Homo sapiens: one gene and its partners. The protein of the gene in region 3 purifies or fractionates together with the protein of the main gene of each other region. This does not show direct contact. Each region holds a gene or a part of one and is shown on either strand. Other genes may lie near its edges.

The links.
Region 1: the proteins of ZCCHC9 (region 3) and CMC2 purify together in Homo sapiens (affinity purification with mass spectrometry; one large-scale study listed by BioGRID and IntAct). This does not show direct contact.
Region 2: the proteins of ZCCHC9 (region 3) and OR1M1 purify together in Homo sapiens (affinity purification with mass spectrometry; one large-scale study listed by BioGRID and IntAct). This does not show direct contact.
Region 4: the proteins of ZCCHC9 (region 3) and LLGL2 purify together in Homo sapiens (co-immunoprecipitation; one large-scale study listed by IntAct). This does not show direct contact.
Region 5: the proteins of ZCCHC9 (region 3) and MMAB purify together in Homo sapiens (affinity purification with mass spectrometry; one large-scale study listed by BioGRID and IntAct). This does not show direct contact.

Annotation. Positions count from the first base shown.
Region 1 is NC_000016.10:80,975,869-80,979,387, forward strand, and holds part of CMC2 (COX assembly mitochondrial protein 2 homolog), read right to left. Parts: intron 312-3,519; coding exon 225-311; 3' UTR 1-224. UniProt on the Homo sapiens protein: May be involved in cytochrome c oxidase biogenesis.
Region 2 is NC_000019.10:9,090,050-9,093,122, forward strand, and holds part of OR1M1 (olfactory receptor 1M1), read left to right. Parts: intron 1-3,073. UniProt on the Homo sapiens protein: Odorant receptor.
Region 3 is NC_000005.10:81,308,081-81,311,599, reverse strand, and holds part of ZCCHC9 (zinc finger CCHC domain-containing protein 9), read right to left. Parts: intron 3,040-3,519; coding exon 2,889-3,039; exon of another isoform or gene 2,655-2,888; coding exon 2,562-2,654; exon of another isoform or gene 626-2,561; coding exon of another isoform or gene 574-625; intron 390-573; coding exon 321-389; intron 1-320. Other genes in the region: ACOT12 (acetyl-coenzyme A thioesterase), read left to right, coding at 574-625. UniProt on the Homo sapiens protein: May down-regulate transcription mediated by NF-kappa-B and the serum response element.
Region 4 is NC_000017.11:75,567,183-75,570,701, reverse strand, and holds part of LLGL2 (LLGL scribble cell polarity complex component 2), read right to left. Parts: intron 2,227-3,519; coding exon 2,009-2,226; intron 1,931-2,008; coding exon 1,863-1,930; intron 1,725-1,862; coding exon 1,571-1,724; intron 1,482-1,570; coding exon 1,377-1,481; intron 740-1,376; coding exon 447-739; intron 355-446; coding exon 204-354; coding exon of another isoform or gene 192-203; intron 1-191. UniProt on the Homo sapiens protein: Part of a complex with GPSM2/LGN, PRKCI/aPKC and PARD6B/Par-6, which may ensure the correct organization and orientation of bipolar spindles for normal cell division.
Region 5 is NC_000012.12:109,563,502-109,567,020, forward strand, and holds part of MMAB (corrinoid adenosyltransferase MMAB precursor), read right to left. Parts: coding exon of another isoform or gene 3,510-3,519; intron 1,676-3,509; coding exon 1,618-1,675; intron 1-1,617. UniProt on the Homo sapiens protein: Converts cob(I)alamin to adenosylcobalamin (adenosylcob(III)alamin), a coenzyme for methylmalonyl-CoA mutase, therefore participates in the final step of the vitamin B12 conversion.

The DNA of each region.
Region 1 (3,519 bases), on a different chromosome or scaffold from region 3:
AAACATGGTGAAGTCAGGTTTGCTGGTAAAGGGGAGACAGTACTAAACGCCCTGCCCAACAAATACTCAGAATCCAGGGTTTTCATATTTCTCCATGGTTCAATCTCTCACAGGTCACTTTCCATTCAAAGGATTATGGAGACCAAATAAGACAGGATTCTTTCAGGTATCAACCCAGAGTCTTTAGGTCTTCTCTCAGCCAAGGCATCGAGTGAAAATACAATTTATTTTTCGGATTCCTCTGGAGGATTAAAAAGTTTCTTTCGCATTGCAATGCCATGCTCCCTGCTCTTGGTCCTGTTTTCTACGTACTGAAAAATAAAAGAAGGGGGGGAGAAAAGAAACAGCAGATTATGTCACTATTTATAGCAGTTTACTATTTAGAAATATTTGCAAAATATAAATGTCCTTTGAGGTTAACAGGGTTTAAATTTTTTAAACATGTTCTTACTGACAAAATTCTTATCTTTTATTTAACCAAATCTGAGATTGGAAATAGTTACCTTAGAGAGTATCTCATATCTAGCACAATTTCATTCAATACAGTACAGCATCTACATGCTAATAGATGCACAAATGTTTGCTCAATCAATTTCCTCCCAAAATTTGAATTAAATAAGTACTGAAGATGGGCAAATTCTGTCCATGTTCTCCAGGGGCTTGCAGTCTAACTAGTCCTCTAACTTCTGCTGAGTACCTCTAGTGGAGAGGCTCACTTCCTTGAGAGGTAGCCTGTCTAACTGTTGGGACAATTCTACTCATTCCCAAGTTTTTCATTTTAAACCAAAAGTGCTTCCCTGTAAACTCCTTGAGAGGTAGCCTGTCTAACTGTTGGACAATTCTACTCGTTCCAAAGTTTTTCATTTTAAACCAAAAGTGCTGCCTTGTCAACTACCACCTTTTATTTCTTCTTGTCTGCTATAATTTTCAAACATTTAATTACAGATAACCCACTTACTACCTTTTGCGCTGAACATTGCTAGTTTCCACAACTGCTGCACAGAACACAGCCTCCATCTTTTAATATCTAACCTATAAAATGACTTTTATTTCATAAAGCACTTTAACATTAATGCCCCTTACCAAAAAAAAAAATCACAACCAAAATTGAATACAGTGCTCCAGTCACAATGACAGACATAGACTACAGTGGGCCTACATCTTAGACCAGCTCACATTGTATTTCTTTAGACATTATCAAGAGTAACTAGCTCTTAGCAACCATATTATCCTATTGACTCATATGGAAATACATAGCTCAACTTCCCAAGGTTTCTTCATCACGAACAGTTAACAAACCTGATACTCCTCAAATCCTATGTTTCTTAATCAGCTACATATAAACACAGTTTTCACCTCAAGAGGTTTTCAGCCTAGTATTCTGATCTGGCCAGCAGGTTACAACAGGAGACACAAAGCCTGGCACTTAGATTTTCTTAAATAGTTAACCTACATTTAAAGCAGAGGACCTTAAAAGTGTTTTTATATGTATATATGTACATGCTTATAATACATACACCAATCCAACACACTTTAAAGGTGGATGAGTGTGTTTTCCCCTGGGCAGAAGGGGAAAAGGGTAAAAGTAAATTCAAACAGAAAAAACTGAAAACATGTGAACAGTTAAACATCAGAATCTTTTAGGAGCCACAGATCTGGAGAGCGAGGCCACAGAAATTAAAGATTAGTGATACCGAGCTCATCAGGGACAAACCCCGCCACCCAAGAGAGAGTAATGAGGGGATTCATGACTTTGAGTTACTTCACTCTTCTGGACCAGTAACTTCAAATATAAGGAGGTGGGCTAGATAATCTTTAAGAAGTTTTCTAGGTCAAAAGTTTTGACTGAAGGATTCTAACATATCTTCTGGAATGGTAGTTTTCAAACTTTTTATTACTTCCTTGTCAAAAGGCTACTTCAGGCCGGGTGCGGTGACTCATGCTTATAATCCCAGCACTTTGGGAGGCTGAGGCGAGCAGATCACCTGAGGTCAGGAGTTAGGGACCAGCCTGGCCAACATGGTGAAACCCCGTCTCTACTGAAAATACAAAAATTAGCAGGGCATGGTGGCATGCACCTGTAATTCCAGCTATTCAGGAGGCTGAGGCAGGAGAATCACTTGAATCCAGAAGGAGGAGGTTGCAGTGAGCCGAGATCGCACCACAGCACTCCAGCCTGGGTGACAAGAGTGAGACTTCGTCTCAAAAAAAAAGCTACTTTAAATTACACATGAAGCACCAGGTCCCTTCAAAGTCATTCATTTTATCTATCATACATTAAATTTACTCATAAAATTGTTGGGGAAAAAATCAATAAAACGTATTCTAGAACAAGGAAGGATACCTGCTCTGAGAAAAAGCTTTCATATCTACCTTTAATCACGTCTACTGGATTGCCCCCAGCAATCAGGTTGAGAAGGGTCTTAAGGGAAACTCTTCAGAAGATAATACTTTGTAGCAGGCCAATAAAATAAGTTACAAAGCAAATTAAAATATAGTCTACATTAAAATATGCTAAGACATCTCCAAAGGAAGTCCAGATGGTCCCTGAATAAAAGGGGAGAAAAGGATGAATATGAAGTTACTCACAAAACTCAATCAAACAATACAGACAGAATGAAAGGCCAATTAACCCCAAACCAAACAAAACAATTAAGAGGGACAAAAGAGAATGCCACAAAAGTACTATTAGTGTTTCTTTTCAAGAAGAAGAACAAAAGGCCAGGTGCAGTGGCTCACACCTGTAATCCAAAACTTTGGGAGGCCAAGATGGGAGAACTCCTTGAGCCCAGGAGTCTGAGACCACCCTGGGCAACACAACAAGACTCCATCTCTCTAAAAAAAAGAAAAAAAAAAAGAATAAAAGGAGTGACACAGCGGAGTCCCAACAAGAAATGGCCATACCCTTTTTCTACTTAAAAGCTTCATGGAGGCTGGGCGCAGTGGCTCACGCCTGTAACCCCAGCACTTTAGGAGGCCAAGGCGGGCGGATAACAAGCTCAGAAGATCAAGACCATCCTAGCTAACACGGTGAAGCCCCGTCTCTACTAAAAATACAAAAAATTAGCTGGGCGTGGTGGTGGGCACCTGTAGTCCCAGTTACTCAGGAGGCTGAGGCAGGAGAATGGCGTGAACCCGGGAGGAGGAGCTTGCAGTGGGCTGAGATTGCGCCACTGCACTCCAGCCTGGGTGACAGAGTGAGACTCTGGCAAAAAAAATAAAAAAATAAAAAAGCTTCATGGAATGAAGTAATCAGATGACATATGAAGCAAACAGTAGCAGGAAAGCATCTGAAGCAAGCATTAAGAGTAGAGAAGAAATACATGAGTGCAGACTCAGAGATTAGTGATGGGCAAGCAGACAGAAAAACATCTACAAATTAGAGAATAAACATCTACAAATTAGAGAATAAAGTAACATAACTACACAGAGGACTTAGAAAAGAATTCAAAGAGAAAACATGAGATGTATAGGAAAACAAACTCAGACAAAATAAGAAAAATATCTCCAACGGTCTAC
Region 2 (3,073 bases), on a different chromosome or scaffold from region 3:
ATTATTCTGTTGTCGTGAGTAGCAAATTAGCAGAGACCTTCGATCAGTGCCTGGCAATACAGGATAACCATCACTGATTCATGCGTATATGGAACAATTATGTTTATGTCTTCTGTATCCCAGACAAGATGCTGGTCACAAAAATGAACAAAGACAAACAATTCCTGATTTCAAATGTCTTGAGGACAGGGTCTGTGTATTTTCATATATTTGTCCCCACAACTCAGGCCAGATCCTGTCACTATATATTGCAATTACCAATAATTTTTTACAAAATGAATGAACGAATGCGTGAGTGAATAAAAGTGACATCTGCAAGGTGTTCATTAGAAATCACAAAAATAAAAAATAAAAATATAAAAGTAACATGATCAGAACTGTAATGCAGGAAGATTAATTTAGTGACTTCAGGATTGTTTCTTTTTTTTGAGATGGAGTTTCGCTCTTGCTGCCCAGGCAGGAGTGCAGTGGCGCAATCGGGGCTCACTGCAACCTCTGCCTCAGCCTCCTGAGTAGCTGGGTTTACAGGCATGCGCCACCATGCCCGGCTAATTTTGTATTTTTAGTAGAGACGGGTTTTCTCCATGTTGGTCAGGCTAGACTTGAACTCCCGACCTCAGGTGATCCGCCTGCCTCGGCCTCCCAAAGTGCTAGGATGACAGGCATGAGCCACCGCGCCCGGCCGACTTCAGGATTGTTTCAAAGGAAGATAATTGGATGCATGAGGCTAGCTTAAGATTAGTGAACTTGGCAACTCAGAAGTAATAAGAGCCTTTCATTTAGGGTGTCTGGAAAGAGGAGATGACTGGAAATGACTATAAAAATAAAAAGTTCAGGACGGGCGCGGTGGCTCATGCCTGTAATCCCAGCACTTTGAGAGGCCAAGGCGGGCAGATCACGAGGTCAGGAGATCAAGACCATCCTGGCTAACATGGTGAAACCCCGTCTCTACTAAAAAGTACAAAAAATTAGCCAGGCGTGGTGGTGGGCGCCTGTAGTCCCAGCTACTCGGGAGTCTGAGGCAGGAGAATGGCGTGAACCTGGGAGGCGGAGCTTGCAGTGAGCCGAGATCGTGCCACCGCACTCCAGCCCGAGTGACAGAGCGAGACTCTGTCTCAAAAAAAACAAATAGATAAAATAAAAAATGGAAAGTTCAGGCTGGGAGCAATGGTTTACACCCATAATCCCGGCACTTTGGGAGGCCAAGTGTGGGCGGATCACCTGATGTCAGGCGTTCGAGACCAGCCTGGCCAACAAGGTTAAACCCCATTTCTTTTTTTTTTTTTAAATAGTATTTGCACCACAGGTGCTATTGTTTATTTTAATTCCAATTAATCAAGAATTGCCACACATGCTAAGAATAAAGCTGTTGGATGTGAACTAAGGAGCACGTTGCTATTTTATTTTAGTGTCCAGATACTCAGCTGGGTTAAACCCCATTTCTACTAAAAATACAAAAGTGAGCTGGGCATGGTGGCGTGCTCCTGTAATCCCAGCTACTTGGGAGGGTGAGGCAGGAGAATTGCTTGAGCCTGGGAAGCAGAGATTACAGTGAGCCAAGATCGTGCCACTGCACTCCAGCCTAGGCAACAGAGCAAGACCCCGTCTCAAAAGGAAAAAAAAAAACAAAGGAAGGAAGTTCGACTTGTAGAGGATGTAACACTCATTGATGGATTGCCTTTGACGGTGGAGGTAGAAAGGAGGAAGACTGAAAATTTCAAACACAGGTATCTGGAAGGATGGTGATTCCATTCATGGACATAGTGGCTCCGGGAGAAAATAGACTTTATTTTTTTATATGTTGAGTTTGCCATGTCAGGAAGAAAGAAAAGAGGGAAAGAATGCTTTGTATAACCCTATTATTATTGTTGTTGTTATTGAGATGTAGTCTTGCTCTGTCACCAGGCTGGAGTACCGTGGTGTGATCTTGGCTCACTGCAACCTCTGCTCCAAGGGTCAAGCAATCTTCCCACCTCAGCCTCCCGAGTACTTGGAACTATAGGTGTCCACCATCATGCCTGGCTTTTTTTTTTTTTTTTTTTTTTTTTTTGGTAGAGAAGGGGTTTTGCCATGTTGCTCAGGCTGCTCTTGAACACCTGCATTCAAGCTCTCTGCCCACCTCGCCCTCCCAAAGTGCTGTGATTACAGATGGGACCCATCGTGCCTGGCCCTAACATTTTTTAATTAATCAAAAAAGAAGAAGAGTTGCTATAAATACTTCATCCATGGTTTAAAGTGCAACCTATATATAAGCTGTTGTCAGGCCAAGTGCGGTAGCTCACACCTGCAATTGTAGCACTTTGGAAGGCCTAGATGGGAGGATCACTCAAGCTCAGGAATTCAAGACCAGCCTGGACAACATAGCAAGATCCTGTCTCCACCACACACAAGAAAAGATAAATAAGCCAGGCTTACTTATGGTGTGTGCCTGTAGACCCCGCTACTAGAGAGGCTGTGGCAGGAGGCTGGCTTGAGCCCAGGAGTTCAAGGTTGCAATGAACTATGATTGCACCACTGCACTCCCTCCTGGGTGACACAGCAAGACCCTGTCTCTAAAAAATAATATCTTTAGCCTGGCGTGGTGGCTCACGCCTGTAATCCCAGCACTTTGGGAGGCCGAGGTGGGCGGATCACGAGGTCAGGAGTTCGAGACCAGCCTGGCCAATATGGTGAAACCCCATTTCTACTAAAAGTACAAAAAATTAGCCGGACGTGGTGGTGGGCACCTGTAGTCCCAGCTACTCATGAGGCTGAGGCAGGAGAATCACTTGAACCCAGGAGGCAGAGGTTGCAGTGAGCAGAGATTGCACGACTGTACTCCAACCTGGGTGACAAAGCAAGACTCTGTCTCAAAAATATATATATATGTATATATACATAATATGTAATAATATATATAATATTTCTATTTTAGAGACAGGGTCTCTAAAGTTACAACACCGTACATGTGTGGAATATATTTACATATATTCTCTCTCTCTCTCTCTCTATATATATATATATACACACACACATATATATTCTATATATACACACACACACACACACACACACACACACATATATATATATA
Region 3 (3,519 bases):
GAATTCATATTTTTCTGTAAGTAACAGAATTGGCTCTATTATATTAAATTCATTAGTTAGCAAATATAAATGCTTATGAATCAGGTGTCTTATAAAGTCAGGGTCCCCTAAGGCTTACTGGTCACTTTTTTCCCCCAACTATTCAGTTACTCAATACTATGTGTGTCTATTGCTGACAGAGATTAAGTCATTGCTACAGTAGGAAAACAGGTTGTCTTAAAATCATTAGTATCCCAATTGAGTTATTAATAACAAGTGCAGAATAAAACGCAGAGGAATACTAATCTCACCCCTTCTAAGTAGAGGCCCAGAGATCTCACCTGAATTCTGACTTTCAGGGCAATCTTTCTTTAAATGTTCCACAGAGCCACAAAGTTTGCAACCGCCACCTATTGAAAGAGCAAAGCCACTGAATACCATCTCATACTTGCAAGGGGTTTTTAACATCTCAAAGCACTTTCACATCTTACTGGATCCTCACAACCCTGTCAGTTGTAAAGGTAGCTAGACCAGGATCATAGGGAGGTGCCACTATTCCTATTAATTCATTCTCCATTCCTTTTAACCTCACAGAGCACTAAATTGTACCCACCCACTGCTTCTTGCACCTGGCCTTGAGAAGTAGGAAAAAGAAATGAGATATGATGGAAGGCACTTGTTCAAGAGCTATTGCACAGAAGCCTGGATCTTAACAATGCTTAGACAATCAAGAGTCTGTGAACCCTTGGACCTGTAAACAAAAGATGTAAGCAGATGCACTTTCCTGAATAGCATGTCAGATTCTCAAACAGTCAATGGCCCAAAAACAGATTAGAAACTACTGTTCTACTGTACAGATCAGATGGGGGTAAGCATTTATGAAAGAAATAAAGTTAATTTTTGTTTCAGTGCCTTCCACTGGCCAGGCACCCTAACCCTATAAAAATGCCCACCTGCCTACTTTAAACAACATTCCAGGATTGTGAATTACAACACATGTGGTTTCTAAAATAAGTGTTTCACTTAATGATCAAACACTATTGCTTAATGGTCAAGCATTATCTTGATCATGCTCGAAATGTTAAGTGACTTAGAAAAATGACCTAATCAGATACAAATCTGGCTGAATTTTCTTTTTTTTTTCCCCCAAATCTTGACTTTATTTTTAACATAAAAATGCAAATGTGGAAACCCACCCTACTTTTCCCCCAACATAATGCTTTACCTCTTAAAAATAAAGTACTAATTCTATATACATCAAATGTACCATACAAAAATGTATCCAGTGTTTCTATTGCTACTAAAGTGTTCTAAATTAAAACAAATCGCAGAAAGCCCCTTATTGTAAACAAAAGATTACAAGGTATAAAATCAAGGCACACACAGGCAAATATGGCCAAATTTTCACATCTATGGGATCTACTCTCCTTGCTGCATTAATTTTTTTTTTTTTTTTTTTTTTTACAGCTAGTCACTTTGGTTGACCAGTGAAAGCCATTTTTGCTCACTAGTCATGTTATCTACCCAGTTTTATAAGCTCAAAACTGAAATGCACCTGAGCATTTTCCAGGCCCTGGCCTCTTTATATGCCATAGTGAAAGAGAAGCACTTGAATAATACATTTTAATCCTTATAAAAATTCTTTAGGCAAATACCATAATTCATCAACTCTAAGACACCACTGATTATAAGATGTATCATTATTGCACATACCTCTCAGAAAGAAAAACAGCTGTCAATTATATGGGACCCACCAACGGTAAGATACATTCTGATTTCCAAGAGATTAAAATTGAAAAACTGTGCATCTTAGAATCAATAAAATATAGTTTTATCATCTCCACTCTATAGGTGAGGAAACGGAGATCAGAGTTTGGTAGTTGGCCAAAGCCCCCCAGCTAGTGAGTGGCAGTGCTGGCGCTGTAACCCAAGTCTGACCAACTCCAAAAGCTATGCTTTTTCACTGGACTTCTCCAGGAGGGAAACCCAGGACATGACACAAGAAACGTCTAGAGCCTGATGGCACCAGCCATCACATTAACAGATAACAACCTCCGCCTTAAAGCTTTAGACCGCATAGACTTTACTGTGTGAACCTTAATTACCCGAGTTAAAGAGAAAAAAGCTACATGATCCCATACCAGACAAATAACTAAGAAAAAAAATTCAGAAGCAAACATTACTACAATATTGAATCATCTGTACCCACCCCTCCACCAAAATGATATGCTGGCTGAGGCTGAATATATAATACGATTTTAAAAACCTCATATTAGCTTGAGATATAATCTCTCTGCTTCTGTTATGTCTAAAAGTAGAAATGTATGACATAGTCTCACAAATGATGAAGCAAGCACAGTTGGAAATATACACCTTAGTTTTTTCTGATTTGTTTTATTAACATCTGAAGTCAAATTGCACAAAAAGCCTAGTACATATGATAGCACTTGATAAAAATAATGTAATTCTCAAGGTTTTGCAATTTATTCAAGAATTTATTCAAGAACTGTGATTGAGTGTAAATTAAATCACAACTGCACGATGACTCACCATTTCTGCTATATGAGGGTAACAGTACTTACCATCAGCATAGAGTCCTTTGGGATTATCAGGACAAGATCTAGACAGGTGCCCCATTTCTCCACAAACAAAACATTTTGCAAAAGGAAATTCGCCTGTAAAAATCAACAGTTCCTATTCAGTTGACAATACATATGGCAAGTCATAAAATTAACATTATTTTAAAATACTCTGAATAAAAAATATATTTACATAACTTAAAATTTAATCTCATATGATTTCCAAATACTAAGTGGCACACTCGTAACAAATTGTGTTAAAAAAATACCCAAGGTGCTATTTATTGGCTTTCCCCATGAACAAAACAAAAAACTGAAAGAAACACATACCAAGAGCCGGGTCTACTTTAGCCTTACACTTGGTTATTTCGTGCTCTGTGGACCCACACCTGTAACATATCCCAGTGCCCATGTCTTGATTTTCAAGGGCGGCGGGGCAATCTGCAATTCCATGACCAGGTTTTCTACAATGGAAACACACCTAGGAAAACAAAACGTAGGTTGGCACGCTGCAAAACTATACCAGTGACTTTATTAATTCTTGTTATCAAAAACATATTTAAAACATTTCTCATCTTATTAAGCTATTTTTCTGAAATCTCAATATTTGTAGAAAAAAGCTTTCATACGTTCCTAAACAACGAGATATCCTTTCCATCAGAGGGTTTCATTGCTTTTGAAAACCTCAATCAATAAATCCATAAATCTCAGGAACAATGTTATATATGTGGCTTTGTAGACGGCAATTGCTTAAATGAATTGAGCAAATATGGACTATTCATTTTATTAACTGGAATGTCTGCAGTAGAAAAATGGCATTTTCTATAGGAAATGGACAGTGGCTATAAAAACTGTCACTCAAAATTTGTATTTGTATATAATTATGTACTCAAAATTTTAAAAAATTAATATTTCTTTTAAAGTTCACATAATTGAATGAATTTGGGTCAGACATTTCCAT
Region 4 (3,519 bases), on a different chromosome or scaffold from region 3:
ATTACAGTTACTGCCTTTCTGCTCAGGAAGCTGAGGCAGAGAGAAGCAGCGTGACCTGTCTGAGGTCACACAATGCGACCTGGACCCTGAATCTTGTTTGTAGCCTAGCAAGCCTGGGGAGCAGGGGCCGTGTGGCCCCCCTGCTGGCTGCTCTGAGCCGAACCTGGGTGCGTGGCCGGCCGCAGCCTCACCTCAGGCCTCACCTCTCCTGGGGGGCCAGCCGGGTGCCGCTTCCGGCTGGACACCCGGCTCCGACGCATCCGGCGGAATGACTGACGCAAGGACTTCTTGAGGGACTTGACGCGGGAGAGTGGGCCCTCCAAGGCCAGCTGGTCACTGGGGTGCAGTGTGCACCTTGGGGGGATGGCAGGCTGTCAGTGCTGCTAGGTCCTGGGAGTCCTCGCGGGCCCCACTCCCAGCCCCGGGACCCAGCCGCCCCTGCTCACTTAACAAAGACCTGCCGCCGCTGCTGGTGGTCAAAGAGGCCAAAGCCATGGCTGGTGCCGAAGGCCACGAGCCGCCACTCAGAGTGCAGGGCCAAGGAGGTGACCACAGCCGGGGGCTGACACTGCACCAACACGAAGGGCTGAAAGCCAGGCTCAAAGCGCACGGGCCCTGAGCGGGCTGCCAGGCGCTCGTGCCCCTTCCAGCGGTAGCCCTCTTGGTCCTGCAGCAGGTCGGCCTCCACCTGCTCCACAGCCTGCTCCGCTGCCTCGTCATTCAGTTCCAGTACCAGCACCTGCGCAGGGTGGCAGGTGGCTCAGCAAGCCCTCAGCAAAGGGACGGCAGGGCCGCAGGATGCTACTAGTGGGGACAGCAAAGGAGCTGGGCCCAAGGCTCAAGGAAGGACAAAGGCCTCTGTCCAACCCCAGCTCTCCTGCATTTTTTTTTTTTTTTTTTGAGACAAGTCTTGCTCTGTTGCCCAGGCTGGAGCGCAGTGGCACAATCTCGGCTCACTGCAACCTCTGCCTCCCAGGTTCAAGTGATTCTCTTGTCTCGGCCTTCCAGTAGCTGGGATTACAGGCACGAGCCACAAATGCCTGGCTAATTTTTATATTTTTAGTAGAGATGGGGTTTCACCATGTTGGCCAGGCTGGTCTCGAACTCCTGACCTCAGGTGATCCGCCTGCCTTGGTCTCCCAAAGTGCTGGGATTACAGGCATGAGCCACCGTGCCCGGCCCAGCCCTTAATTCCGATTTCTGGAGAAGAAACAACCATCCCAGGGACCTCCCGCCAAGGGGATCAAGCCACCTCCATCCACCGGAAAAGCAAAGGACACAGAATGTGCGTTAGGCAGGTGGTTGGCTCCTGTCCCTGCTGTCCCCAGTCATCGACCACTCCTCCCCAGCTCCCCCTCCCCAGCCCAGCCTGCTACCTGCCCTGCCGTGCCTGCCACAGCCAGGTAGCCGCTGTACTTGCAGAGGAAGATCTTCTGGATGCCCAGCCGGGGGTCATCACTGTAGGGGTCAAAGGAGCCCACCTGGAGAAGGGGAGGGGCCCTGTGAGCAGCCACGGGGACAGGACCCAGCTGGCCTCTGCCCTTCCTGGGTCCCAGGCTCCTGGCCTCACCTTGCGGAGTGGGGGCCACTCGTCCTCGCCCTGGGCACTGAAGTTCTCGTTGGGGTCCGTGTCGGTGAGGAACACGCGCACAGTGCTGAGTTTGTAGAGCAGCCGCAGGCAGACACCCGAGGCATCCCAGAACCGCACCGTGCCGTCCTCGTGCCTGTGGGCAGAACCCACCTGCCAGGCGTGAGAGGGATGCCAGCCGGGATGCCCAGGGGCTGGCTCGTCCACCTCAGGGCTCTGCTCCCACCCCACATATCCTACTGGGAAGAGGTGGGGTAGCATCAAAGTACCCTACCCTGTGAGCAGCAGGTCCCTCTGGGGTGGGGCTGGGGTCAGGCTGGTGCCACCATCAATTGGCCACTCCTAGAAAAAGAGACCAAGAAGTCCATGGGAGAGTTTGGCTTGCGGTGGGGCTGGGGCTGGGGCCAGGGCCAGACCTACCATGGTGGAGAAGTGTGCGTTCTGCCGGCTGCCGGCGGCAATGATCCGCTCCCACAGCTTCAGCGGGATGTTGGAGACGTGGTGAGAGCAGGTGATGGCGGAACAGTGCAGAGAAGCCAGGTAGGGCAGCTGGACCGGTGGCCAGCCTGCTGTCTGCAGGTCAATCACCACCAGCTCCTCCTCAGCCAGCACCACCAGGGCATAGGGGTCGTCAAAGGCTGGGGTACAGGGCAAGGGTCAGGGGCCGGGGCCAGGAGGAAGCAGCCCAGCTCTGTGGAATCAGAAGCTCCAGGGTTGGAGCCAGGGCATCTGCAGATCCAGAAAGCCCTGTTCTTGGCTGCTTGAGCAAAGCCTTTCCATCTCCAGGAGGGCAGCAGGTGTGGGCAGTAGCCCTGGCTCTGCATGCAAGGCTGCTGAGAGCTCCCTGGCACAGGGCTCCTGGGGGGATACACCTGGCTGGAAGGCAGGGTCCCAACCAGGATAGGCACCCCAGAGGCATGCAGCTGTGCCTGCCAACCCTCTTCCCTGGTTTCTCCTCCATGGGGCCTGCTCTCCCTGCTCAGATGCACCTGTCAAGCCTCTCCCCACAGGCAGCAGCACGCGTGGTCTTCAGCACACCAGTTGCTAGGGGTGGCATTTTCTTTACTGCACACAATCACATCACCTCACTCAGGCCTGGACCCAGCTAGTGCTCAATAAATGTGCGCTGGATGATTAAACCATTTGTCTTTTTTTTTTTTTTTCTTTTCTCGAGACAGGGTTTCACACTCTGTCGCCCAGGCTGGAGTACAGTGGTGTGATCTCGGCTCATTGCAACCTCCACCTCCAGGTTCAAGCGATCCTCCTGCCTCAGGCTCCCAAGTAGCTGGGATTACAGGTGTGAGCCACGATACCCAGCTAACTTTTGTATTTTTGGTAGAGACAGGGTTTCGCCATGTTGCTCAGGCTGGTGTTGAACTCCTGGGCTCAAGTGATCTTCCCACCTTGGCCTCCCAAAATGCTGGGATTACAGGCATGAGCCACTGTGCCCAGTCTTTTTTTTCTCTTTTTTTTTTGAGATGGAGTCTTGCTCTGTCACCCAGGCTGGAGTGTAGTGGTGCGATCTCAGCTCACTGCAACCTCCGCCTCCCGGGTTCAAGCGATTCTCCTGCCTCAGCTTCCCAAGTAGCTGGGATTACAGGCACTCACCACCACGCCTGGCTAATTTTTGTTTTTCTTTTTTATTTTTTGAGACGGAGTTTCGCTCTTGTTGCCCAGGCTGGAGTGCAATGGCATGATCTCGGCTCACTGCAACCTCTGCCTCCCGGGTTCAAGAGATTCTCCTGCCTCAGCCTCTCGAGTAGCTGGGATTACAGGCACATACCACCAATGCCTGGCTAATTTTTTATTTTTAGTAGAGACAGGGTTTCACCATGTTGGCCAGGCTAGTCTCGAACCCCTAACCTCAGGTGATCTGCCATCCTTGGCCTCCCAAAGTGCTAGGATTACAGCTGAGCCACTGCCCCTGGCTG
Region 5 (3,519 bases), on a different chromosome or scaffold from region 3:
GGGTGGGAGGTGGATGGGTGAACAGGTTAACACCCCTTGTGATGCCTGTGGTTAGAGGATGTGGAAATCCAGGAGCAGTGCCTAACCCAGCTGGAGATTAGGTGGCCAGGGAAGGCCCTTGAGGAGGTGACGTGACAGCTGCGACCCAACGCGTACAGCAGACAGAAATGACCGCTGCTACCGCGGCTCCTCAGGAGGTTGAAAGCCTTCCTCCACCACACAGAATGTTCTGGCAGCTGAGGCTTCCTCCTGCAGCCACAGCCTGTGGCAGCCCCACCTACTACCCTCCGTCTGTTCCCAGGGGCCTGAGCAGGCTCCAGCCTGGGCTTCAGAACGGAAGTGGGAAGGGCTGACCCTGCGGGGAGCGGTTTCTGGGGACCTGGGTCCATGTGGAGGTGGAAAGTGCGGCACCCTGGGCATTCTGGGGTGGTGACCCTGTCTCCGTGCTTGAAGTTCTCTGCGTGGGTCAGAGGCCCCCTCCTTCTTAGGGAACAGAACAGTGACACTGTGACGCATGAGTCCCACGGGCTGAGGGCTCACTGCAGCTAGGCTTCCCAGGTTCCCTCTGCATCGGGCATGAGCGAGGCACTTCACACCGGCTTTCTCAGCCTCGGTGCTATTGCCATTCAAGGCCGGGTCATTCTTCGTTGACGGGGGCTGTCCCCTGCATTGCAGGATATTTACATGCCAGCAACACCCCCAACACCCAGATGTGGCAACCAAAAATGTCTCCAGATATTGCTCAGCGGGCCCTGAGGGGCAGAATGGCCCTGGGTTGAGAACCGTTGCATTTTAAATTCCCTCATTTAGTACAATCCTCCCCACTCGCCTGTGAAGGAAGATTATATGTCTCCAGTTGTTTGTTTTGGAGACAGAGGTTTTTTTTTTTTTTTTTTTTTAAAGACAGGATCCCACTCTGTTGCCCAGGCTACAGTGCAGTGGTGTAATCACATCTCACTGCAGCCTCAACCTGTAAGACTCAAGCGATTCTCCCACCTCAGCCTTGTAAGTTGCTGGGACTATGGGTGCATGCCACCATACTTGGCTAATTTTTAATTTTTTTTTTTTTTTGTAGAGACAGGGTCTCCCTAAGTTGCCCAGGCTGGTCTTGAACTCCTGGCTTGAAGTGATGCTCCCACCTTGGCCGCCCAAAGTGCTGGGATTACAGGCTTAATTGAACCATGGTGCTCGGCCTGAGACAGGGTCTCAATCTCTTGCCCAGGCAGGAGTGCAGTGGCATGATCACAGCTCACTGCAGCCTTGACCTCCTGGGCTCAAGAGATCCTCCTACCTCAGTTTCCTGAGTAGCTAAGGCTACAGGCATTCACCACTATGCCTGGCTAATTTTCAAATATTTTGTAGAGTCAGGGTCTTATTATGTTACCTAGGCTCCTGGCCTCAAGTGATCTTCCTGCCTCAGTCTCCCAAGTAGCTGAGATTGCAGGTGTGAGCCACCATACCTGGCCTGTCCGCATTTTACAGATGAAGAAATGGAGCTCACAGAGGGAGAGTAACTAGCCCCAGGTGACACAAAGAGTAACTGGTGGCTGGATGCTGAGTCCCGTGATGGCCACCGGGGCTGAAGATTCCCAGCTTGGGTGAGATGGTGTTACTCACTTTCTGAAGCTCTTCGGCAAATGTATGGCCCTTTTCTGTGACTAATTCCAGAGCAAACCTATGAAGAAAAAGGAAAAAGAATTTGCCTGTAATGTAATGTCCCTAGGCCCTGTCTTGCCATAAACAATAGATTCTCAGGTGGCAGGCCATTTAGTTAATTTAGCTATAATAGCCATGTTATTTTTCTTGCTAACAATAAGAACATTATAGCCTTCCATTTGGGGGCGGTGGTATTTGTTTCTTGAAATGCCTTTTCGGATGCTCATTATTTCCAGTCAAGAATTCCTTTTGAACAGCTACTCTGGCCAGGCCCAGGAGAGTCAGTGGTGAACAGAAGCTGACCCAGGCTCTCTCCAGCAAGTTGGTGACAGGGTGAGCAGTGACAGTCTCAAGTGCTGGATCCTGAGCTCTGACCCGCAGCCCTGTGGTGATAGGTGAGTGGGAACCAGACAGACCCAGGTGCAAATTCTGCACCGCTGCTGAGTGTCTCTGGGACTTCAGGCAAAGCTTACACCTTCATGTTCAGGAGCGTGATATTCAGGAGTGTGATAGGTAATCAGATTAGACATACTCCTGAATGTGAAGGTGCAAACTGAGATCAGTGCTCTGAAGGAAAGAGCAATAGAAGCCTAATCTGACCTTGGCTAGAGAGGCAGGGAGGGCTTCCTGGAGGAGGTGATGCTGGAGGGGAGACTTTGAAGGCTGGGGAGGACTTCCCTCATAAGGCAGAGAAAGCAAACTGCCCCCCGACACAGGTCAGGACCCTGGCTCTGCCTCCCTCAGAACCCTGCACTTCCCTCCTGCACCAGTCAGTGCCCCAGCAGGAGACAGTGGCGCGCTGCAGGGATTCCTGGAGGAGGGCTTTGGGAAGGGACAATTCACAGAGGTATGGGCAGAGTTTCAGGGAAATGCAGGAGCCTGAAGGGCAAGGGTCGGGGAAGGTACAACTCACCCTGGAGGGAGCTGAATTCTGGAGTCACTCAGCAGGGAGGGAGTTAGGTAGGGAGCCCAGCTGCCACCAGAGCCATGCACCACTGGGGAACAGGGTCACACACACTCATGAGCTCTCTGCACTCACTCTCCTATCACCTACTGGTGCCTCCCACTGGCTGGACCCACCTGAATGCCAGAAGACCAACGAATCGAGGTGGCACAGCCACCAGGTGATAAGGTCAGCCTCCCATGCATAAAGAGAAGGTGAAGAGAAGGGATTTGAAAGGGCCAATGGAGAATATCCAGCCCATCTTCCTGGCACATCTTACAGTTAGAACTAAACACACCAGTATGTGATTCCCGTCTGGTGTGTCTTCCCCTCTGGACCAAAGGGAGGGCTGTGCAGGCTGGGACACAGTCTGTCTCCATCATAGCGGATGCCCCATGCCTGCCTCACAGGAGGTGTGCAGAAGTACCTGCTTGCCGAGGGATGCCCCGTGACCAGGCCAGTGGCAGGCCCCACCCTGGGCACTTGCCCCAAGCCTGCTCCCACCCTCGTAGCTGCCCAGTGAGTGCTGCCTGCTCCCTGCACTCTGCAGCTCAGGAAGGTGGGGCTGAGGTTCTGCTCCCTGCACTCTGCAGCTCAGGAAGGCGGGGCTGAGGTTCTCTGTTGAGCAGCGCCTCGCACTGCAGATGCTTGGTCAATATCTGACCAAGGAAGAATCCACAACTGAGGTTTCTCCAACCTCCCGCTCCTCCTCAACTGAGAGACGATGGCTCGTGTTTTAGAGCTCATTAGAATAGCTGATGCGAGAACTGGCCTTTTCTCCCTTTGCCCACTTGGTCTTGTGTCTGCCCTCTTCTGGACCCCCTCCCACACACACCAAGGGGTTTGTTTGCCTTCTCTACCCGGCTGGCTGACTATCTGTACCTCCCATTATCTGTCCCGAAAATCTCACCTAGTCAGGC